Homo sapiens: one gene and its partners. The protein of the gene in region 4 purifies or fractionates together with the protein of the main gene of each other region. This does not show direct contact. Each region holds a gene or a part of one and is shown on either strand. Other genes may lie near its edges.

Region 1 (3,500 bases), on a different chromosome or scaffold from region 4:
TAAAGGAGTGATGTCATAAAAGAAATGCAAATTAAACTTTACAAACTTTAAAAATAAAAAAATACAATGATAAAAGGAAGAAACACACACATTATTTGTATTCAGAATCTATTTAGCCTACTCTAGTAATCTAATGACTCAGCTAAATCCTAGTAATATCATTCTTATTAAAATACCATTCCAAAATCTAAAACATAAAATTTCAATTTTCATAATTTAGGAAAAAGAACCACAGGTTGATACTATTTATTTCAAGATAGTAACACTTGCAAACTCTTCATAGGTCCAGGAAATTAAAACACCTCATCCATGGAGTCTAGTGACCCCCTCCAACAGTCTGGGCTGGCTTGTTACTACTATTCATAAATGTGCTCTACCTCAGAGGATGAATGATGTACTTCAGACCTGTGAAGTCAACCCTCCAGCAATAAACCCTCTAGTATACTTTCCTGCACTAACCAGTAAAACACCAACATGGTAAATTCATCCTTTCAAGAAAGTTAATTGATTCCAGAGACAACTGAGAAATGCCAAATGACTGGCGCATAAAAGTACCGTTTCTAAATCACAGATCCTAAACTCCATAATGCAGATTGACCATCACCTCTACAAATACTGCAGTGGGTCAAGTTCAACTCTTTTACACTGTCCCCTAAGATGCCTAGAAACAATGTGTGATAAAGCCAGGTGTAACAAGAGGAAAGGTGGCTAAATGCAGCCCATTTCCTGAAGCAGTCACCCATTTTATGCCCTCAACACATCTCCTAAGTTAAGAAGCATAAAAGGTTTACTCAAAGATAAAAGCTCTGCACCAGGTGGCCAAGCTGACACCAGTGATTTTGGAATTAACTCTAGGGGGACTTTAAAACTTCTGCTTCCTACCATCTTTCTGCCATCACACTTCCTTGCCTGTAACTGGTGATTCATATCCATTTATCAAATATTTTCTGAGCATGTACTACACACCAAGCATCGCTCTAAGAGCTGGATAACAGGCAAGGTCTTCATCAGATTTACTTCTAGAGAAAACATAAAAATAAGCAAAAATAGGGCCAGGCATAGTGGCTAATGCCTGTAATCCCAGCACTTTGGGAGGCCAGGGCGGGTGGATCACGAGGTCAGGAGTCCGAGACCAGCCTGGCCAACATAGTGAAACCCTGTCTCTACTAAAAATACAAAAATTAGCTGGGCATGGCGTGCCTGTAATCCCAGCTACTTGGGAGGCTGAGGCAGGACAATCACTTGAACCTGGGAGGTGGAGGTTGCAGTCAGCTGAGATTGTGTCACTGCACTCCAGGTTGGGCAACAGAGTGAGACTTCATCTCAAAAAAAAGCGAAAAGGAAATAAACGATGAACTATATGGAGACATTTAGATAATTTAAGAATATTTTTATCTGAACTGTGATTCATTTAAATGCCTGTTTTATTTAGAAAATTCTGCCTATAAATCTACTGGAAAGTAGTCTAAGTTTTCAAATCCTAAAATCTCTCTTCTTCATGTTACGCGATATTTGACATTTATTCCTATGGTGTAGTGCTTATTAAGGTTGGAATGTGTAATATGTGTTAATTAGTTTCTTCCTATTCATATAAATTTCAGAAAACTAAAATGAAGAACAATGTCGATCTAAACATGTTAGACATAGGAGGAAGTATACCTGCGTGTATTTTGATTCAGAAAATTAAGTTGTAGTTTTGATTACTTTCTTCCTGGTGTACTTGGACATCTCTATCGCAAACATTTATATGACTTTACAAAGGCATAAAGCTTATAATTCTTTGATTTGCTCATACCAAGATTTCCTTACCTTGGCACTACTGGTATTTTAGGCCACATTATTCTTTGCTATGGGGGCTGTTCTGTGCACTGTAGAATGTTTGGCAGCATCCTTGGCCTCCACCCAATAGATGCCTTCAGTTAACATCCTCCCCCAGCTGTGACAACCAAAAATGCCTCCAGGCACTGCCAAATGTCCCCTGCCAAATGTCTCAACTGTCAACCCTACTTGAGAGCCACTCACAGGTCTTCACTGAGTAAACATATTGTTCTACAGTATTAAAGAAAGTTCCAAACAAGAAAAAAAGGATTTAAATGAACCTCCTCAACCCAGAGGCTATAGGCTCCCTGAAGGTTTCCTTCCTTTCCTGTTCTGTTCACTCCTCCAGGCCTGGGCATTAACAGGTGCTCAAACATTTGCTGAAAGGAGAATCAATCACCATTGGGAACCAGTCAGAAAAGAGAGTATGAGAAATTTAAGATTAAAAAAACAAAACAAAACTTAAGTAATGGCCATTGATCCAGATTTTGAAATAATTTAATTTGTCTGGCTATATAATGGAATGCAGCAAATATTCTGATTAGAGTTGAGTGCCTATGCTAAGCATAATGGGGTACAAGAGGAGTAAAACAGTCCCTGGCCTCAAGGAGCCTACGGGTGGCTGGGGGAGGTAAATATGCAGTTATGCAGGTAGGTGCAATACAACAGACTAGAATGTCCACTGCAAACATACACCATGCTGTGTGTGTATTCCCAGTCCACTTTTTCAAATATCAAGAGATTCCATGAAGAAGGCTGGCATTTGACATGGGCTTTGAAGTGTAAGTAAAATTTTGATGAGCAAAAGTAGGACACAGTACAGTAGTTAAACAAGAGGGAATGACATAAGCAGAAACTGGATATTTCTTGGGGAAATAGTGACCAGTTGGGTTGGGAACATTTTAAAAAGTACAGTAGAGGGATTGTGAAACATTAAGTAAGGTCAAATGAGTTCAGGTCGCAGGAAGGTCTACAAGTCTGAATAAGGAATTTGGACTTAATGGTTTTGTTCAAGTCCCAACAGGAGAGTGACCTCCCTGAAGATGTGGCCGTCTACCCTGCCAAAGCTGTGCAAGATTAGTTCCACTGGGGCGCGGGGGTAGGTGCAGAGGCCATTCTTACTGCTACCCACAGTAATACAAAAGTGTAATGACATGGAATTTACCTATAGTATATGCCTTGCATTCTATTTTTCATTCTATTTTACTCCGTTATTTTTAAGTAATGGCAAACATCCAATAATTTGGTTTCACAACCCACTGAAGGGTTTGCAAAGCATTTCTTCGACCTTTTGGATAAATATGGTGAATTCAAATGTTGGGGGTACTGGAAAAAAGGAAGAGTATAACAGTTAAGTAGGAGACTACTGAGCCAGAATTGGCCTGGTGTGTCATTATTCTAGGGACTGGGAGGATGGGATGCTGGAATACCAAGCATGACTCTATGGTGGTAGAGGGTGTAACTCTGAAGTGAATGATCATGAAGTTCAAGCTAGTTACAGCTAAAAAGGAAGCCAACAGAATGGGAAAAGAGAAATGGCGGAAGGCAAGCAGGGGACAGACGGTGGGAGCGGCAAGGAGTGACAGGGACACAGCGTTCAGAAGTGTTAAAGGTGGGGTCACTTTTCTCACTAATTATACGGTCCAAGCTCTGGAGTATCTAAAGTGCAATTAGAAATTCAC
Region 2 (2,673 bases), on a different chromosome or scaffold from region 4:
AAAGCACTGCCTCAGATGGCCTAGCAGGAAACTACCGCAGCATGCACACCCTGAACGAGTGGGCCTTGGTGTCTCTTCAACGGCAGCCTGTACTACGGCTCAGACATTGCCGGGGTCCCCCCGCCGCCCCCAATAGGAGGTTCTGGGTCTGACATCCGCTCAGGCTGGCAAAATACGGCCACCCAGTGACCCAAGGTTGGCAAGGGAAGCTCCCACCAGGTGTGTGCTTTGGGGACACCTGCGTGACACCAAGACCAGAGACTGAGGCGCATTAGAGGCCAACGAAGAGGGCACCTCCTTGATGCGCAGGCTTTCGGAGTCCTCCAGGCTCTGTCTGCATCTTCTCTTCTCCATGTCCAGGCGCTCTGGAAGCCCAGGGTGGGCAGAGTATGCGTGAGCATCCCCTGGGGGCCCCCGTCCCCCGGTGCCCATCCCCAGGCCCCTCCACAGCAGGCCTGCCCGTGCCCACCCTCGGCCTGGATGGCCCGCATCTTCAGCTCAGCTGACATGCTGGTCATCTCCTGCCTGGTCTGGAACAGCTGCTCCTGCTGACACCTGAACTTCCGCTCCAACTCGTCTACCTGAAAGCCGGCACCAGGGAGGGAAGCTGCAGCCCAGCCCTGCCGCGCCCACCCTGGGCTCCCTGGCTCCATCCACCACAGCTACCTGGTTTTGCAGAAGCAGGTTCTTTTCATTGGCAGCAGACAAGTCTCTGAGGAGTTTAGACTCCCGCTCTGCAGCTTCCTGGGAGGGGAACGGGGTATGGGTAGTGAGGGTCACGAAGCCGCCACGCACCCCTTGGCCCACCCCTCTCAAGCCCTGCCCACCCACCTGCTGCTCCAGCTTGAGCTCCTTGGCCTGCCTCTGTGACAGGCTCAGCTGCTCCTGCTCCGCTGTGGCCAGGAGCTCCCCCAGGTCCTGGGCCTTCTGCTCCGACAGAGCCAGGGCGGCCTCTGTCATCTGCAGCCTGCAGAAAGGAGGGGCAGCACCCCCGCCCCGGTTGGAGTTTCACTTGCCTTATAAAGGCCTCGCTGCTTTCACTGTTGCTGGGCACCTAGTCAACCCCAGCCAGCACCCGCCTCCTCCAGGAAGGCTTCTGGGTTACTGCCCCAGCCTCACCATTTCCCACCTCTGCTTTGCAAACAGGACTTGCACACAGGTTCACACCACCTTTCTCTGCCCTGTGGGCACGTCTCTGAAGTATCCTGAGGCCACCCCCCACTTACTTGGCCTTGAGAGCGTTGATGATGGAGTGCCTCTCATTCAGGGCTTCCTGAAGCTGCCCTACACGGGCTGCCGACGCCCTGTGGGCAGAGAGGAGGGTGCAGAGAGTAACCCAAACCCCAGAGCGCTCCCATACCCCTCTGGCCTCGGTAGCTGCTGCTGTTCCTTAAGCATCTATGGTCGCCTGGGCACTGAGCCTCCAGCGACCTCCTCGTGGCCTCACTCGTGGGCTCAGGTTGGTCCCATCTGAGTCTGAGCCAGGACCTGATCCCTGAAGCCTCACCCTGCCCCTGCCCTGGGCCCGCTCACCTGCTGCTCTTGGCCATCTCTTCTCGCTGCTTATCAATAGTCTCCATCAAGTCGAGGAACTGGGGACAGAGACAGCCGCAGCCCTGTCAGGGCACCTGCAGCCTGTCCACCTGACCTTCTCAGGGGGAAGGAGAGCCAGCGCCCACCAATGTGGCAAGGCAGCGGAGGGTTCCACCCACGGTGCCCTGTCTCCTTCACAGGAAGGGTGGCCCCTGCAGAGCGAGGCCTCAGGGCTCAGACGCCAGCTCCCCAAGGAAGTCCACCTGCAGATCAGACCAGGAGGCCGCCCCTCCTTCCTGGTACCAGCCACTCAGAGAGGCTCCAGGGCCCCGAGGAAGGGAAGATGGGCAGACCACGGGGCTGAGGGAGGAAGGACGTGGCCAGGCCCTCCAGCCATAAGCAGCTCCAAGGTCAGTGAAGGCGCCATCCTCACCTGCTTGGACTTCTCCTCCCGGAGGTGCTGGACCTCCTTGCTGAGGACGTGAGTGCGGGCTTGGTTCTCCTGGAAGGTGGTGAGCCGGTCCTGGCTGTGGCCCATGGCTTGCTCTGCAGAAGGAGCTGTGTCAGCTGGGCACAGGGGCTCATGCCTGGAATCCCAGCACTTTGGGAGGTCGAGGTGGGTGGATCACCTGAGGTCAGGGGTTCGAGACCAGCCTGGCCAACATGGTGAAACCCCATCTGTACTAAAAATACAAAAAAGTAGCTGGGCATGGTAGCGCACACCTGTAATCCCAGGTACTCGGGAGGCTGAGGCAGGAAAATCGCTTGAACCGGGAGGTGGAGGTTGCAGTGAGCCGAGATTGCGCCACTGCACTCCAGCCTGGGTGACTGAGTGAAACTCAGTCACACACACACACACACACACACACACACACACACAAAGGAGCTGTGTCACCCCGGGGCTGCTTAGCCTCAGGAGTAGCTGGTGGCCACCAGCCCTGCACCCAGCGGCTGGCTGCTTGGGAATCTATGCCGTGTGGGGCAGCGTCTCACCCGGCAAGTCAGGGGTGCCCCCTCAGTGCATGGGGGTGGAAGTGCTTTGTGGGGTTCGGGCTGTGAGCAAGAGCCGCCTGGTGTTGGGGAGCGCGTGCACATGTGGGGCAGAGGTGGTGGGAGCTGCTCCACCGCAAAAGGCAAGGG
Region 3 (4,116 bases), on a different chromosome or scaffold from region 4:
CTTGCAAGTGGGTACATATTACAGACGCCACACTGACCCCTCCCAGCCTTCATCTTTTCAGATTCCATTCTTTGATTCTCACCCCCTGCCCCACCAACCCTACCATGTGGCAGAAGAGGCCGGCTCAGTCACCAGCACTCTCCCCCACTCCTGGAGTTTAATCTTTTTGCAGGGATCTCTTTTCTCCAAAAAGAGATCTGCACAGGGAGTGGCTCTCTGAAGCCAGTTGAGAACCTGCCCTGCTGGATTTACACAAACTGAAATCTCAAATGCCCACAGGGTCAGAGAGGTAAAGTAAATGAATTAAGAAGGGGGGCGTAATTCAGTGGAGAATGGCAGGGACTGTAGTGAACAGGAGAGCACACTTCTTATACAAATGGCAAGGGCAACTCACCTCTGCCACTGTGGGCATCCCAGCTCTTCCCATTTTCAGAAGAAGCCAGAAATCCAATTTCTTTACAGGTGAAATCTCCTGGTTTAAAAATGCTCCTTTCGAAATATTTTAAAATATAATGCTCTAAACACAAAAGTCTGCAGCCCCCTTTCCAGCAGCTTGTGGTCCTGGCCTGTGCCATGCTTTAGTGCCCTAACGATGAGCCCCAGCAATTCCCAGCGCCTCCTGCTTCTCCAAGTCTGGCCTCTTTTCCCCTCTGTACCGCCGCTTCTCCCCACTCTCCGCAGCTCGGGGTCACTTTCTTTACTGATCTCCCCTCTCTTCTGGGAGAGGCACTTGCTGAACATCTTTCCGCCCGGAGCCTCCCCAGGAGCTGCAGAGGGGCAGCTGGAGAGATGCTTTCTGACGTAGCATCTCCCACCTTTCTCCTTGGGGACCCTGAGGAAGGGGACAAGGGCTCGCTCTGCAGGTCCTCACTGTAACTGGAAAAACACGACCTCGCCCTCGGGAAGGCTTTCTGTGCGCCTCACCTCAGGATGAGGGTGGGTGTAGGGGACACCTCCCAGAAACCCCTAACCTCCCAGTCGGTTAAAGAAGAGGGGATAGGGTCAAGGGATGCGACAGAGCTGTGTGGTTTCCGGATGGGAAACCTCAGTCGTTTAGGCACCCCTCCGCTCGAGTCACTTCCGAAGCAGTCGATTCTTGGGGAGAAGCGCTGCGGAAAGGGGCGACTCCGATGCAGATGGCCCTGTCCCGGCGCCCCAGGTCGTCGCGCGCGCAGCTGCGGTAGTCACTGCGCCTCCCCGCCCCCACTCCTGGATGCCCCCCTTCCCTCTCCCGGCCAGACTCTGAGCAGGAGCTCCGCCCCCAGCGCGCCGCCCCAGCCCCGGCGCCTTAAAAGCCGGGCGCACCGCCCCGCCGCGCCCTGCCTGCCGCACCTCTCCTTTCTTCTGTAGCTCGCGTTGAAGCCGCACGTCCGGCCCCGATCCCGGCACCATGAGCTTCGGCTCGGAGCACTACCTGTGCTCCTCCTCCTCCTACCGCAAGGTGTTCGGGGATGGCTCTCGCCTGTCCGCCCGCCTCTCTGGGGCCGGCGGCGCGGGCGGCTTCCGCTCGCAGTCGCTGTCCCGCAGCAATGTGGCCTCCTCGGCCGCCTGCTCCTCGGCCTCGTCGCTCGGCCTCGGCCTGGCCTATCGCCGGCCGCCGGCGTCCGACGGGCTGGACCTGAGCCAGGCGGCGGCGCGCACCAACGAGTACAAGATCATCCGCACCAACGAGAAGGAGCAGCTGCAGGGCCTCAACGACCGCTTCGCCGTGTTCATCGAGAAGGTGCATCAGCTGGAGACGCAGAACCGCGCGTTGGAGGCCGAGCTGGCCGCGCTGCGACAGCGCCACGCTGAGCCGTCGCGCGTCGGCGAGCTCTTCCAGCGCGAGCTGCGCGACCTGCGCGCGCAGCTGGAGGAGGCCAGCTCGGCTCGCTCGCAGGCCCTGCTGGAGCGCGACGGGCTGGCGGAGGAGGTGCAGCGGCTGCGGGCGCGCTGCGAGGAGGAGAGCCGCGGACGCGAAGGCGCCGAGCGCGCCCTGAAGGCGCAGCAGCGCGACGTGGACGGCGCCACGCTGGCCCGCCTGGACCTGGAGAAGAAGGTGGAGTCGCTGCTGGACGAGCTGGCCTTCGTACGCCAGGTGCACGACGAGGAGGTAGCCGAGCTGCTGGCCACGCTGCAGGCGTCGTCGCAGGCCGCGGCCGAGGTGGACGTGACTGTGGCTAAACCAGACCTGACCTCGGCTCTGAGGGAGATCCGCGCCCAGTATGAGTCCCTGGCCGCTAAGAACCTGCAGTCCGCGGAAGAATGGTACAAGTCCAAGTTTGCCAACCTGAACGAGCAGGCGGCGCGCAGCACCGAGGCCATCCGGGCCAGCCGCGAGGAGATCCACGAGTATCGGCGCCAGCTGCAGGCGCGCACCATCGAGATCGAGGGCCTGCGCGGGGCCAACGAGTCCTTGGAGAGGCAGATCCTGGAGCTGGAGGAGCGGCACAGTGCCGAGGTAGCTGGCTACCAGGTAAGGGCCGGGGCTGGGCGTGGGGAGGGGTGCCCTGCCCTCTTCCGCGCGTACCCTCTTCCTCTGGTAAAACTGGGCCCCAGGACTTAAGGGGAGGGCAAAAGAGAGGAGAGAAGAGCCGCGGCTGGAGGCGCTGGTTAACAAAAAACCCTGGAGTCTTTAATGTTAATTTTAGGGAACGCCCCTCATTTATGTCCCTGCCCCAGCCCTTCAAACAAAGAAGCCCTTAAATTTATTTGAGGTTCGAAAACCCAACTCTGCCTGTCTGTCAGCAAGCGGGCCTACACACACCGGCGACCCGGAGAACAGTGCCCCACCCAAAGTAAGACTGAGCCCAACGGGGCAGGTTACGTGGGCGGTGCTGTCTCGGCTATCTGGCTTGTTTGGTTGACTTTGAAAAGCTTTCTGTGCGCCCTAGAAGTTATTTATGGAGTATGGTCTGCTTCAGGGCTGAAGGAAGAATGCGATCCTGAACTGGGAAGAGTCCTATCCCATTTTCTTGACTTTCGCGCTCCAAAAAGTAGAGATTGGGAGCCAACAAGCTGAGCGATGCTTGAGCTAGTAGTAACCACCCTGCTCTACCCACCTCCCCAACACACACACACACACGATTCCCTTGTCCACCAGCACACACACACACACACACACACACACACACGATTCCCTTGTCCACCAGCTGACATTTCCTCCTTAAGAAAGCGTTCGCCGGTTGGCAAAACGTGAAAGGTCGGGGCGCTGTCCACGGTGCTGATCTCGAGTTCTTCCCATCTCAGAAATTATGTCTCTCCTGTCTCGTGTCCCAGTTATGAATCTCTAGGCAATTAACTGCTTTGATTTTTTTTTTCCTGCAACACCAACACATCAGTCTTGGCTACCTGCAATCAAAGGTCACCTCATAGACAACATCAGTTTTGGCTTTCATGGATGGCTTAGCACTAAACAAAAAACACTTAATTTGCTCAGCAGCTGTGAGGTCCCACTTGAAAATTCCTGTTTTGTTAGTATTTTTTTCATTGTAAGTGCATGTGATAAGTCACAGAGATGGTTTTTCTTTGTTCTAGTGTATGTATTTTTTCCATATTTCCCTGTCCTCTAAGCTCCTGTGATGGTATTGATTGGCTATTTCTTCCCAACAAAGGCCACTGTGTCTTCAGTTTTACTATATAAGAAATTCTGGGATTATGACCGCAAATGGCACAGAGGCAGGGGACAGGGTAAATGGAAGGTGTAGAAAAGAATTGGAATAGTGTGGTTCGGTTTCAAGGTACAATAAAAGCTCCTTTGAATAGAATGACTATAATTCAGAAACTTGCAATAATTCTAGCTAGGATTAAAGTTTACATTTGGTGAGATTAATAGGGCTTGGAACATTGGTAAAATAGAACCAAGAAAGGAATGAAATCTCAAAAGTAACATTTTAATCAGAAGCTAAAGAATTCTTATTGATGTGCAGGTATTTGCTGTTTGTTACAATAACTTCCTTTGATAAAGGAAAAAAGCCTGCTTGGACTGTTTAGGTTAGTTTGGTATTGCATTATCATTCAAATAAGTACTTCCATTTCTGCCTCAAAATCCATAACTTGAACTTTTCATTATGTACCCTAACCCCTGGATGGCCTGAATTAATCACATTTGGCTAATTGAGACTTCATTTTTTTCTT
Region 4 (3,500 bases):
CTTGGATTTTCAACTGTGTGGGGGATTGGCACCCCTAACCCCTGTGGTAGTCGGGGTCAACTGTTATTTTTGTTTACAACTAAGGAAACCGAGGCTTAGAGAGGTTGAGTAGCAGCAGTGGAAACAGAGCCCAGATCTGATATGACATGACTCTAAAACTCTTCTCAAGGCCCCCACCCCTATGTTAGGTTACCATGACAATTCAAACTCAAAGAAAGCATAGATGCCTCCTCTATTGCTTTTGCATTTGTTCACAGCCAGGCTCAATACCAAATGGGTGCCCTTCTAGTGTTTGTGAGGGAGGAAATTGATATTTTGATGAGAGCATGGGCTCTGCAGTCAGGGAAACCTAGGTTTAAGTGCCAGATCTTCTCACCATTAGCTGTACGACTTTAGACAAGTTACTTGACCTAACTAAACTCCAATTCCCAAGTGAACAACCATGAAAAGCAATATCAATTTAGAGGGTGATTGTATTGATCAAATGAAATAACACATGTGGAGTGCCAGGCCCATAGCTAAAGCTCAACAGAAGGTGGACATTATCTGACATATTCCTGCTTGTTGATCCACAGATGGAGAGGGGAAGCAGATAGGGCCAGGGTCAAAGCCCCTGTCCCCAGTGGCTTCTTCTTATGAGTCACCTTCAAGAACTTCAGTTTCCTCTGTGGGAGGAGACACTTCTTAGTTGAGTTTTTGATAAACTGACATAGACATACACATAATTTTGGAGTCCCTTTTTGTATTTGTTGCTGTAAAGATCTGAGCAAGCTAGTTTAGATACCACTGTTAAATTGGCAGGCTGATGTATTGGTTGGTTTGTTCTTTCTGAACATTTCCTTTGAAAGGTTACATATATTCATGCTCTGAAACTCTCATTCTGCAATATCCTCTGAAAAAAACTCACACAATGCCTGAGCTTTGCTGGGAAAAACAAACAATGGCCTGTACTTAGGAGTAAAAATCAAAAGAACCACATCTGCCTAGAATCTGAGTTTCATGAAAATTAATTTGGACTGAGGCTCCTGGATGGCAAAGAGCACACCGTTTGCTGGCTTTATTTAGTTTCTTCACAGTGAATAATGCAGGTGATGGAGTGTCCATTAGCAGCTTCTAATAACAGTTTACTCTCCACTATGTGGTATTTAATCAAGCTTTAATTGGATACAGCCTGCTCTACAAGGAGTAAGACACTTTGTACACATGCATTGACCCTGGTCACTCTACAGTGAGGTTCAGTCTTGGGTGGCCCTCCTGACTGGTTACTGCTCAAAAGCCCCTACCATTAAAAAGTATGAGCAGGAAGAGCTATTCTCCAAAAGTTTTGGTGGGAGTGGGAGGGGTAGGTGTTGAAGTTTCTCTGGGTCTCAGAGACCCCAGGGCAGGAACTCAACTGAGAGCAGGGCCCAGGGTGCACTAAGAAAATTCATAGAGTGGCAAAGTAAAGGATTTTTTAAAATGCAAACATTGTGCCTAATTTATTTCTTATTTTGAAAGAGAACTGACAAATATATGCATGACTCACCTGCCTAATCATTTGCATGCAAAGCCTGGCTTGCCTTAGTTTTGTAAACTTAAAAATTGTCTTTAATGGCCTCCCTTACTTTTTTTTCTTTGCACGTTTCTTGAAGGTTCTTCCCTAATGTCTGCCTGTGTCTGTGTGGCTATGGGTCAGTTCCTCCTCCTGCATTTATATCATGACCTCTCTGTAGCCCTAGAAGATGTTTTCTCCTGCCTCCGGGGCCTCATGACCTCTACCCTGAGTGTTTAGTACAAGGCTCCACCCATGACAATTTTTGTGGACAGGACTCTATTAGGAGCTGCAGGAAACAGACAAGGAGTAATCCATCATCAAGTCTAACAAACAGGTATGTATGAAATATTCCTCAGGTGTCCCCCAAAGAGAGTTACTGCTGCTCATGTTCTCTGTGTTAGCCCTCTTATCAATTAGTTGCTGTAACCTCATCAATATGGATTACAAGAGATGATTGATAGATAGACAGACGATATAGAAGACAGATAGATGATAGCTAGATATAGGGGGTCACAGAATAGCAAAAATCACAATCTCTGCTTGCAAAAAGGCAGAAGGAATCAGTTAACCCTATAAAATCCTCAACAGTCTGGACTTCTGTTCTCTTAACATCACCCTTCTACATCTATTCAAGTGCAGACATTTCTCAGTGTGGACATGGCCCCACAGTTGGCTTGGTGAGGAGATGAGCCCTTTGTCAAAGGAAAAGGACCCATCTCCCTTCAATCCAGTGCTGGACTGGCTTTTAGACTCCATTTATCCCCTTTCTCCGGTGCTTTTGTGCTCAACCTGCACAACTTTATGCTGGAATCCTAAAAGGCAGCAACTTACGCTCTTGTTCCAGGTGACAGCTAATCTCAATCAAACATCTCCTCTCTTTTATTTTCCTCATTAGGAAAAAAAAAAAGAAGGGAGGTTGAATCTGAAATTCTTTGCAGTGCCAGAAAGCTGCGGTTCTTCAAATGTGTACTGAGCACTTGTTATGTGTAAGGCATTCTGCAAGATTCACTGGTGGAGACAGCTGGCATCAATAAAAAAAGATGGTGCCTCCAAGTTCCAGTTTGACTGTCATTTTCAACACTTCCTGGGTCCTTTTATTTTTTATTTTTAAGAGGTCACATTCTTTCTGTGCAGCCAAATACAACTGTCCAGCTGAATCACCATGAATATTCTTCCTGCAGTCTGTAGTCACCACCAGCAACCACTTAAACTTCCAGATTCAATTTTCCAATCTACAAAATGCTACCTGTCATGGTGGGGCATATGCCAACTTACTAGGGGCTATTGGCCAACATAGGGCATTAGGCTGGCTCAAGGAAGTGTGTGGGCACACACAGCAGCAGTCTTCCCTTCTCCTCCATGCAAAGGATTTTCAAGGGGGTCTAAGCTATTGATATTAAGATTCCGAGCAGCCGTAGGCTGCAGAGCTCCATGCCCAATCTGGACCCCAAGTCACTAAAACTGCATCAACTCAAGGTTGCACTGAGGTCACCGTCCGGATCCATGTTTTTATTCCAGAAGGATGATGGAAAGTTTGTTCAACGAACTATGACAGGACTCTGGCTGGTAAATTACAGAATGATTAATCAGAACTAAATGCACAGCAGGGAGCAATAGACTCTAAATTGGGAAAACTTCTCCTGTAGCTTCAAGTTTGTAAGTGAGACATCCAGATTTTTAAAAATGGTTTTGAGTGGAATTTTTTCTTTTTGGTTTGAGTGGTTCTTACAGAAATCTAGTCATTCTCATTAATGGTCATTTTTGTTTTTAAACAAATCAGGCCAGCTCAACCTCATTTGAGCCTCCAGTGCATCCATCAGGGTCAGCTGATGCCCGTAGGATCTGAAGTTAGTGATCATTTTTAGGTCCTCACTCTTTCAGAGAGCAGGTCCTGTGCCACACAAGAGGAGGCATGAGGGTCACAGGCATGGGAACATATTATGAGCCTATGAAGCCCCCTGACCCC
Region 5 (3,500 bases), on a different chromosome or scaffold from region 4:
GAGGTGAGGAGTTCGAGACCAGCCTAGCCAACATGGTGAAACCCCATCTCTACTAAAAATACAAAAATTAGCCAGGTGTGGTGGGGTGTGCCTGTAATCCCACCTACTTGGGACGCTGAGGCAGGAGAATTGCTTGAACCAAGGAGGCGGAGGGTGCAGTGAGCCGAGACTGAGCCACTGTACTCCAGCCTGGGCAACTAAGCGAGACTTTGTCTCAAGAAAAAAACAAACAAAAAAACCAAACTTCCATCTCTATAAAAACTTACTCATTTCCATTGGCTTAGTGATGAAAATGTTTTTTTCAAAAAAGAATGTGTATATTTATATCTCTAATAGAACTACTTCTTTTCACTACACTTCTGAAGAATGTATCTTTTGATGTTGTCCAAAAACTAAATTCTCATTGTCCCTGAAAGTCGCACACGCATTCTTTTTAACATTTTAATTTTTTATTTGGAAAACACTAAAACAAACAAAAAAACCAACAACAAAAGGAGTCACTGCCTTAAATCTCTCCACTTTTATTAAATTACATTAAGAAGTGAAATTCTCTCACAGGCCCTCAACTCATAGCAACTAACTTCAGGGGTAACTAGGATTAGCAGTTTGGTACATATCTTTTGATATGCCCTCCTTAAAAGGGCAAAATGTACTGCTCATTGACTTTTTACCCATACCTAGAACATTCTGAAGCTCTGAGCACTACTTGTCTAAATAATTCAGACTTACTGCTTGCAAATCATGATCCTGTTCCAACTGGTACATCAATTCATTCTTGAGGTCCATGCTTATTTGCTCTGGAGTAGCCTGTAAAACAAAAAGCCAACATAGTCAAACAAAAGCACATAATTCAGCTTCAAAATAAATCCATTTTTTACCTAGACATACTAATCAAATATAGTCTCAAGAGTAAAACACAAGACTCTGATCTCAAAAACAATATTGCACTCACAAAAGCCAGAGGCCCCTCATCAATGTTGCTACTAGTCCAAGGATTCCAGTTGGATTGTGGAGGTGACCAAGGAACCACACCCACTTGGTTTTGTCGCTGAGATGGTTCGAACTGAGCCAATTTGCCAATGTTGAGTGCAACTGGCACAGAAGGATCTTCAGGCTATTAAAAAATAAGAAAAACAAACAAAAAATATGATTTGCTTGTCTACGGAGAGTTCTACGTAAATGTGAACTAAACAGCTTTATGCTTACCGGGGGCAAAATCTCAAGATTTAGCTCTTGAATGATGTTTTGCAGCTGATGCTCTAAATCTTGAGAGAGGTTTACTTTGTAAGGCTCCACCTATGGAAAAAGGATCACACATTAACAACACTACTCAAATCTACTATAATGGGGCTAAGACTATACAGTCAACACTAGGTCTACAATATTCCTAAACCAATAGTCAGTTCCCTTTTGTGAGAGAATTACTTCAATGATTATTTACTCACTGCCTATTATGAACATCATGCCAGACACAGAGATGATTAGCAGGGCCATTTTCATTTCCTGAGGTAAGATTCTTAAAATTAAACTTCTTCAGCCAAACACTAAACAAGAGCTAAATTGAATCTCACACTATCTCACAAGTCTATTAAATCTAAAGACTCACTGTCTCTCCTTCCTTCTTCTTTGTAAGTCCGGAGTAAGCTTCAACCACTCCAAGATGGTACAGTTGTCTGACAAGTGACAGGGCACAGGACTGTGCTGCCAATTTCTTATTTGATCCATGTTCTCGTGCAAAAATCCCTATAATGTAAGGTCAGGATTATCAGACAGAAAGAAATCATCTGAGTAAAGAAACATCTTATCACAAGAAACTATGGGCTTACGTACACAAGAAGCCCTAAAATACAGGGTATGCCATGGCTTCTAGTTCCTTTTTATTCTATTAATATCTGCTAAACAAAAGAAATTGCCAAACAGCTTATCAACTAAATAACCAACAGTTTTGATTACTGGCTGATACTAGGACTCATACAAATCAATATTATGAAAGCAAATAACCTATTTCAACAAAGTTGTCACTGTTAATATCAGACATTAAAATGGGGAAGAAAACATAGTTTGAAAAGACAAAGAGTAAAAAATAAACCAGTAAAAGTAATTGGGTCCAGAGTGGTTACCTAGACCAGGATTTGGGAAACTTTTTCTATAAACGGTCAATTAATAAATATTTTAGGCTTTGCAGGCCATATAGTATCTTGTCACAACTACTCAACTCTGCCTTTAATGTGTGAAAGCAGTCACTGACAACAGAGTTTGATAAACCATAGGACTGGGAATGGCTTTACGTTTTTCAAGAGTTGTAAAAATAAAATGAGAATAACAATGTGTGACCTGTAAAGTCTAAAATGTGAGTGTAGCTATGTTACAATAAAACAGTTCTTATAAAAACAGGCAGTACGCTGGATCTGGCCAGAGGGCTATAGTTTGCTGACCTTAGCATTAAACTAAAGCTAAGTTACTCATATCCTTATAGAAAATATTAACAGAAAGTTTCCTCTCCTCCTGTATCATTCATCCTTAGGAGAGATGAATATAAAGCAAAGGGGTACAAAGGTATCTTTCTGCCTAACTAGCCAAATTAACCTCGATAAGGTAAGTGAGCTGACAGAAGTTAGCCTGCCTTTATCCTCTCTCCCTTAGTATTATCCATCCACTCAAAATAACTCATTGTATATATAAAAATGAAAAAATGTTTAAGACCAGGCACAGTGGCTCACGCCTGTAATCCCAGCACTTTGGGAGGCTGAGCCAGGCAGATCACTAGGTCAGGAGATAGAGACCATCTGCTAACATGGTGAAACCCCGTCTCCACTAAAAACAAAAAATAATCAGCCGGGCTTGGTGGCAGCACCTGTAGTCCCAGCTACTGGGGAGGCTGAGGCAGGAGAATGGCGTGAACCTGGGAGGCGGAGCTTGCAGTGAGCCGAGATCACACCACTGCACTCCAGCCTGGGCGACAGAGCAAGACTCCGTCTCAAAAAACAAAAAAGGTTTAAAATTAATTGACACTGGCAGACTCCTAATCATCCCACTGTGTCTTACCTTTGAAAGATTACACTAACATGGTCTGTTTTCACATGCAAACTGGGAGACTTTGCCTCTAATTTATATAATTACTAATATTCTAAAATATACCCTAGATGCTATCTTACATTATGTGCTCTTTCAAATAATACAGCTTCTGTATACGTGACTCAAGACTTAAAATGTGAAGATTCCTTCTCTATACAGAGACTTGGAATATTGGGGAAACAGTAACACTTACTTCTGCCCAGCTGCTTGATATAAATGGTCATTTCTGCAATAAAGCTCCTGTAACAACATATACAAGCAAGGTTAGAAATTTCACTGTTAGAAACCAGCAAATCCAGGTCTCCCAAGTCAGGCAGGCTTTCCAACTGCTTAGGCAAATCACAGAAAAAAAAAATTACCAACATTTATTTCTGCCCAACCCTAGAACAAATGAAGTATATAAACTTCAAATAATATACAACATG
Region 6 (2,590 bases), on a different chromosome or scaffold from region 4:
ATTTCTGAGTAGAATCCTACAGATACTAACTCGACTTTTTCTGCTTCAATACTCTACCAGTGACACACTTGCACACACAAAACTATTCATTTCTGATGCTATGGTGGAGAGGGCTGCGAAACTGCCCCTCACACCTCCATGGCCCTTCTTCAAGAAGGGGAGGATCCACTCACACCTGAAAGCCACTTGGGATGTCTCAGAGGCCATTTTCATGTTGACAGTAACTTGTGAAGCAATTAATTATGTGTGGGAAGCAGATTTGCAGGGCAAGAGTTCTTAGCTAGCCCTCAGCTAACTCCTGAAGTTCAAGCTAGCTTTCGGCAAAAGCCCAAGACAAGGAATCATATCATCTACTACAACATTCTCACACGCCAAAACCAGTTTGCCTTCAAACTCATTTTACAGAACAGATGATTCTAAAGATCTATAAATTTTAATTGTATGTCACTGAATTCCTAACAGCACTTAACAGTTTCTTTGAAAAATTTCTTAACAGAACGTCAGAGTATTGCAACACTTTATTAAGAGTATTGGCTTTGAATCAGTAGCTGAAGTAACAATTGCATGAAGCCAGATTAGGTGCACTGCATAATACCCATACTCGATTTATTGACATTACTTAGCAATTTACTGGACAAAAGTCAAACTTTTTTGTTTTTTATTAAGCACATTCCACAGTACAAAGCTGTCATGAATAATATCTGTACAATTTAACAGTTTCAATAGCTGTTCAGACACAAATTTATTTCAAACAGATAATTGGCAAACATAATTAATTACAAGTTAGAATTAGACTATCCCAGTGCTTTAAAACATTAATATAGCAGTAATTTACATTTGCTCAGTTATGGTTAGCAAAATAAAGTCCAGAGTATGGCTGGGAATTACTATTATAATCCCAGAAAGTCAGAACTCCTTGGGTGCCAAAGTCCCCTGCTATAATTTAGTAGGCACAATTCAAAGGTTGTCTGCATATTCAAAGGCCATCATCTCCCAAGGAACGAGGGGAACTTCTATATTAAACATGCAAAAACAACAAAAAATCCATTCATTCATTCAGAATTGCCTCCTCCCCTGCCCCCTCCCTTCCCCCTGGGCTTTCCTAACCAGTTTGATATTGAAGCTGTAGGATGAAAAGTGGTCAAAGCTAAATCACTTTCACAACCACCATCAAGCTTACAACATCCACCTTATGAATGGAGGTTTATTGTTTACACTTTGAGACTCAACCTCTCAAAAACATAAATTAATTTAGTAACATGGGAAGGAAGGATTTTATTTTTAAAAGAAAAACTAAAAAAGCAAAGCCAACTCAATAAACAAATCACATACACACACACTGATCCCCACACCGTTCTCAATGCAAAGGACAAATCAGAGCCCAGGGCCTTCCCTTTAGTAGTAGAGTGTGCTTCCACGGGAAGAGGTTTACTTTATAGGAGGCTGTTTATTGGTCCTTTAAAATGTTATTGACATTCCTTGATCTTTGGAAACAATGGCGAAGGGCAAATCAAACCTAATATTGAATAAGGGAGAAGGAGTGCCAATTGGATGCCAACGTCCTTTCCATGCACTGTCAGGGCAACAGTGCCATTTACACATTTGGGCTGTGTCGTAGGGAGGACTTGGGAGCTTTGAGAACCTGCTGGGGCCACAGCAGCAGCTGACACCAGAGATGACTGGGGTGGCATTCATGGGCTTGAGGCTTCACTCCACTTCAGAGCACCCACCCCTCAGCATGGGCCTCTGAACCAGCCTGACCTGCCCTGCAGGCTCCAACACACCAGCAGGCCCTGCCAGAACCTTGGCAAGGCCAGGATGCATGAATTCCAGAGCCAAGACAGCCCGTCAACAGGGCCTTCTTATTTCCCCTTCCCAGGGCCACGACTGCACAGAATAATGATTTTTGACAGCGAAGCCAAATGAATACTATGGGAGGTGACCACTTGTACTCAGGAGTACTTATGAGAAAAAGAATAAGAACAAAAAATGTTTAAGGTACCTCTCTATTGTATAATATATACTCCACAACAAATAAAACATTTTGGTGTTAAACCTTAGAAATTACATTTTAAAACAAGATTCTCATTAAAAACACACACAAACCACACACACGCAATGACAACAACAAAATAAAAACACTGTATGAATACTGCAGGAAGGGTTCTAGGTAATCCACATCAACCCAGGTATCAGGTTCTTGAGCCCAGCCCATGGCTAAGTGCGAACACACTCTGTATTAGTGTCTCAAGCACAGGGGGCCCTGACTCCAGCAACTTTGAGGTTAAACTGTTATGTACATTATATCTACATGCGAATACAGTATTTTAAATTAGGAGGCAAGCACACGTATAAAGGTGTTACTCTACCAAATATCAGGAGATGGTTGGGGGACAGAGAACAGTTAATAAAAGAAAGAGCTATATTACCTGTTGGTAGATAATATAACTGACTTATAGTTCTTTAAATTAAAAGAAATTGGTACAGAAAGGAAGTATAATCCCAAAAATATTACTAAAACAATCCAGAGAAAATTTTCCACTGTCCAACATGTTCCTAATACAACAAGTCAGAATTCATAATGACTTGG
Region 7 (3,500 bases), on a different chromosome or scaffold from region 4:
AATCAAACCAAACCAAAAAACAAACAAACAACAACAAACCAGTGTGATCACATTTGTGAATTCCAGGAATAGAGAATTCTAAATAAAAGCTTCCAGAGAGAAAAGTGACTGAGAGTCAGACTGGCATCAGCAACCCCAGAATATTAGAAGAACAAAAAGCAGTAACTTCAAAGTTCCACAGAAAAAAGACTCTTAATTTGGAAATACATAGCCAACCAACCAGTCAAGCACAAGAAAACATAGGTTCACTAAGAAAATTTGTCACCTACATTTCCCATATATTTTATTTTTTAATTACAAAGATTCACTCAAGTAAAATTGGGAGGAGGAGAAAGAATCAACTGAGAGGTCAATATTGGAAACAAGAAACAGGAATCTGAGTATCTCTGAATAGACTAGTGAGAGATAATGGACCAGGGTAGTAGGGGTGGTCAGAGGTCAAATTCTGCATCTAGTTTGAAAGCAGAGCTGATAGGTTCGGATCACATGAGGTGAGACAGAGAGAGAGGAATTAAGGATGGCTCCAAGGTGTTTTGGTCTTACCAACTAGAATAGAGCTGTCATTTGATTAGATGGGGAAGGCTGATGGAGGAACAGGTTTGGAGCATGCTGAATTGAGATTCTAGCAGACTTCCCTACAAGTAGAGATGTTAAAGAGGCAATGGATATACAAGTCAGGAGTTCAGAGGAGAAATTCAGGCTAGAGATAGGAGTCAGTGATATACAGGTAGTATTTGAAACCAGGAACTAGATGGATGAGATCATCAAAAGAATGCAGATGATTAAATAAATGTTAACAGACAGAGAGAAAAGGGGAGATAACTGAGCCCTGGAGCTCTCCCAACATTTGGCGGCTTACAGGTTCAATCAGCCAAGGAGATTGAGAGGTAACCAGTGAGATATGAGGAAAAAAATGGCATACGATCAAGTTAAGAAAATGCTTCACAGAGAACAGACTAACTGTACCACGTAATGCTGACTGGTGAAGTAGAATGAGACTAAGAACTAACTACTGGATTTGGTAACATGGAAATCTTTGGTAATTTTGATAAGAAAACTTCATATGTAGGAATAAAAACCTTAGTAAACAGGGCTCAAAAATGAATGAACACCAGTGGTGTAGACAACTTCTTCAAGGGGTTTCGCTATAAAGGGAAGGATAGAAATGGGGTAATCATTAGAAAAGAGGAAATTCAGTTCAAGTACAGTGGGGTTTTTTGGTTGTTCTTAAGGTAGAAGAAATAACTGCCTATCTGTAAGCAGACAGAAAGATACGTTAGGGAAGGAAAAACTGAGGAGAGTAGAGAACTGCTGGAGCAATGTTCTTGAATCACCAAGAGGGGACAAATGCTGCACAAGTGGAAGGGTGGTCTTAGACAGAAATAAGAACAGTTTATCCATATTGATCAGAAAAAAACATAGAAGTCTGGGGAACAGATGCAGGTAACTGGGTATGTGAGGGGTAAGTTTATCAAAATTATCTTTCGTTTGCTGTTCTTTTCTCAGTTAACTGCTATAGAAAGCACGGTTAAGGGGCTGAAAGTGAATATGGGGGAGGTGTTGGAGGCTTGAGGAAAATGAATGGAATAGCCATGTAGAAAAGTGAAATGGATTATGGAAGTATAGTGTGACTGCTAGGAAGTGACCATGACTGCGGAGGCTAGCGAACATAAATTTAGAGTGAGGCTGGTCAGCACATCTGTGTTGATATAATCAGGGTTGTGATTTCTTGTATAAGACAGCAAGAGGGGAATGGGGTGGGGGCTGAGGGAATGTGTACTGACTGTCGTGGTTGCTCATGGAGTTGAAGCAGGATAAAGAAGGAAGTAAAGTTATGAGGGGAATGAGAGGACAGTGAAAGGCAGTAAGATGACAGTAGACTACAGTAGGTGTGAATGACTGACTGAGTTGGGCTACTAGAGAGACTGAGCACCTAGACAGAGAGGGAGATCGTGGTGGGAAATAACATGGGACAGCTATTCTCTATTAAGCACCAACATTAAACTAGTTACTTCTTTTATATCACCTCATTTAATTATCAGAATGACTCTGAAAGATGGGCATTATTATCCATCCCTATTGAAAAGATGAAGAAGTTAAAGCTAAGGTTAAATAACTTGTCCAAGACCAAAAAGCTGCTAAGTATTCCAACTGGCATTTTGGGTCGCATTTTCTTCCAGAAAAAAACAAACAAACAAAAAACCCTACAAAACTAGAATAAGGCCCTTGGGAATAAATTATTTTACAGACCAACTCACACTTTGTCCACTAAAAAACTTACTTCAAGCCAGACACTGTGGCTCACACCTGTAATCCCAGCACTTTGGGAGGCCAAGGCAGGCAGATCACTTGAGCCCAGGAGTTAGAGACCGACCTGGGCAGCATGGCAAAACCCTGTATCTACAAAAAACAGAAAATTAGCTGGGTGTGGTGGTGTGTGCCTGTGGTCCCAGCTACTTGGGAGGCTGAGGCAGGAGGATTACCTGAGCCCAGGGAGGTCAAGGCTGTGATCGTGCCACTGCACTCCAGCCTGGGCAACAGAGTGAGACTCTTGTCTCAAAACAACAACAACAAAATTTACTTCAATGGTATCTAGTTTTTAAAACAGCTAATTAATATATTATTTTATAGCATCATGAGAGAAAGACAAATTGTTTCTATAGCAAGCATCTTCTAGCACGGAATAATTAAATTCAAGTTAAACTATCTGTAGTTACTGCTATTATTACTGTGGCACTGAGTTAAATACAAAACTCCTGCTATGTATCATGCACAGATAAGATTTCTTTTTTCTTCCTACTTCCTTCCTTCTACTATTTTTTTTCTTCAGTTTTATGCTGTTTTCTTTACTTCCGACTTAGAAAATCATGGCTTACCTTACTTACCCCTACTAGAAAATGAACAGTTTCTGGCACCTGACTTCAGACTCCCAGAATTACCAAGTATTTCTGCGGACTATGTAACAATAATAAACTGTTTCCAAGGCTCCAAGTACTGGCAACATCACTAAATAGGGCAACAAAAAGAAACTGTGGCTTGAAGTTTCACTAGATCTTTGTCATTTTAGATAGTAATTTTGTGAATTGCTAGATTTAGATCCCCAAGTAATGCAAGAAATCAAATAAAGCACCCCGCAAGTATTTTATCCATCACACAAAGCTCTTCCACTCTCTCCAATAAGGTAATAGTTTATGACTATGTGACTAACATCAAGAAGTAGATAAATTATGCCAATGAGCCAGACTTAGCAGATGATTAAAGAAATCTGTTAACAATTTACTTGTTTTTCTATTCTTCCACCAATCTCTTGATTTTAAGAACAACTTATTTTAAAGGCAAGTGGCTTATATAATCGTTCTTCATAAAGTCTCTTTTCCCAGTGCAGTAGCAACCTGGTTTCCATTTGAATGATTATCCAGGTAAGCTAACTAAATGTAAGAATTTATTTTTTATAAGAATTTCATTCATTTTAGCCTATTTAGGCATCCTACTCACTTATA

Evidence for each region.
Region 1: the proteins of PRMT8 (region 4) and FAM120A purify together in Homo sapiens (affinity purification with mass spectrometry; 3 studies listed by BioGRID and IntAct, with this or other methods). This does not show direct contact.
Region 2: the proteins of PRMT8 (region 4) and LRRC45 purify together in Homo sapiens (co-immunoprecipitation; 2 studies listed by BioGRID and IntAct, with this or other methods). This does not show direct contact.
Region 3: the proteins of PRMT8 (region 4) and INA purify together in Homo sapiens (affinity purification with mass spectrometry; 3 studies listed by BioGRID and IntAct, with this or other methods). This does not show direct contact.
Region 5: the proteins of PRMT8 (region 4) and DHX9 purify together in Homo sapiens (affinity purification with mass spectrometry; 3 studies listed by BioGRID and IntAct, with this or other methods). This does not show direct contact.
Region 6: the proteins of PRMT8 (region 4) and FBXW11 purify together in Homo sapiens (affinity purification with mass spectrometry; 3 studies listed by BioGRID and IntAct, with this or other methods). This does not show direct contact.
Region 7: the proteins of PRMT8 (region 4) and LSM14A purify together in Homo sapiens (affinity purification with mass spectrometry; 4 studies listed by BioGRID and IntAct, with this or other methods). This does not show direct contact.

The regions. Positions count from the first base shown.
Region 1 is NC_000009.12:93,458,185-93,461,684, reverse strand, and holds part of FAM120A (constitutive coactivator of PPAR-gamma-like protein 1), read right to left. Parts: intron 1-3,500. UniProt on the Homo sapiens protein: Component of the oxidative stress-induced survival signaling. May regulate the activation of SRC family protein kinases. May act as a scaffolding protein enabling SRC family protein kinases to phosphorylate and activate PI3-kinase.
Region 2 is NC_000017.11:82,026,305-82,028,977, reverse strand, and holds part of LRRC45 (leucine-rich repeat-containing protein 45), read right to left. Parts: intron 2,080-2,673; coding exon 1,967-2,079; intron 1,593-1,966; coding exon 1,534-1,592; intron 1,305-1,533; coding exon 1,227-1,304; intron 968-1,226; coding exon 832-967; intron 745-831; coding exon 667-744; intron 582-666; coding exon 470-581; intron 366-469; coding exon 295-365; intron 1-294. UniProt on the Homo sapiens protein: Component of the proteinaceous fiber-like linker between two centrioles, required for centrosome cohesion.
Region 3 is NC_000010.11:103,275,822-103,279,937, forward strand, and holds the start of INA (alpha-internexin), read left to right. Parts: upstream 1-1,316; 5' UTR 1,317-1,390; coding exon 1,391-2,455; intron 2,456-4,116. UniProt on the Homo sapiens protein: Class-IV neuronal intermediate filament that is able to self-assemble. It is involved in the morphogenesis of neurons.
Region 4 is NC_000012.12:3,564,203-3,567,702, reverse strand, and holds part of PRMT8 (protein arginine N-methyltransferase 8), read right to left. Parts: intron 1-3,500. UniProt on the Homo sapiens protein: S-adenosyl-L-methionine-dependent and membrane-associated arginine methyltransferase that can both catalyze the formation of omega-N monomethylarginine (MMA) and asymmetrical dimethylarginine (aDMA) in proteins such as NIFK, myelin basic protein, histone H4, H2A and H2A/H2B dimer.
Region 5 is NC_000001.11:182,856,347-182,859,846, reverse strand, and holds part of DHX9 (ATP-dependent RNA helicase A), read right to left. Parts: intron 3,316-3,500; coding exon 3,269-3,315; intron 1,744-3,268; coding exon 1,607-1,743; intron 1,297-1,606; coding exon 1,207-1,296; intron 1,115-1,206; coding exon 953-1,114; intron 808-952; coding exon 730-807; intron 1-729. UniProt on the Homo sapiens protein: Multifunctional ATP-dependent nucleic acid helicase that unwinds DNA and RNA in a 3' to 5' direction and that plays important roles in many processes, such as DNA replication, transcriptional activation, post-transcriptional RNA regulation, mRNA translation and RNA-mediated gene silencing.
Region 6 is NC_000005.10:171,861,049-171,863,638, forward strand, and holds the end of FBXW11 (F-box/WD repeat-containing protein 11), read right to left. Parts: 3' UTR 501-2,590; downstream 1-500.
Region 7 is NC_000019.10:34,179,004-34,182,503, reverse strand, and holds part of LSM14A (protein LSM14 homolog A), read right to left. Parts: intron 1-3,500. UniProt on the Homo sapiens protein: Essential for formation of P-bodies, cytoplasmic structures that provide storage sites for translationally inactive mRNAs and protect them from degradation. Acts as a repressor of mRNA translation. May play a role in mitotic spindle assembly.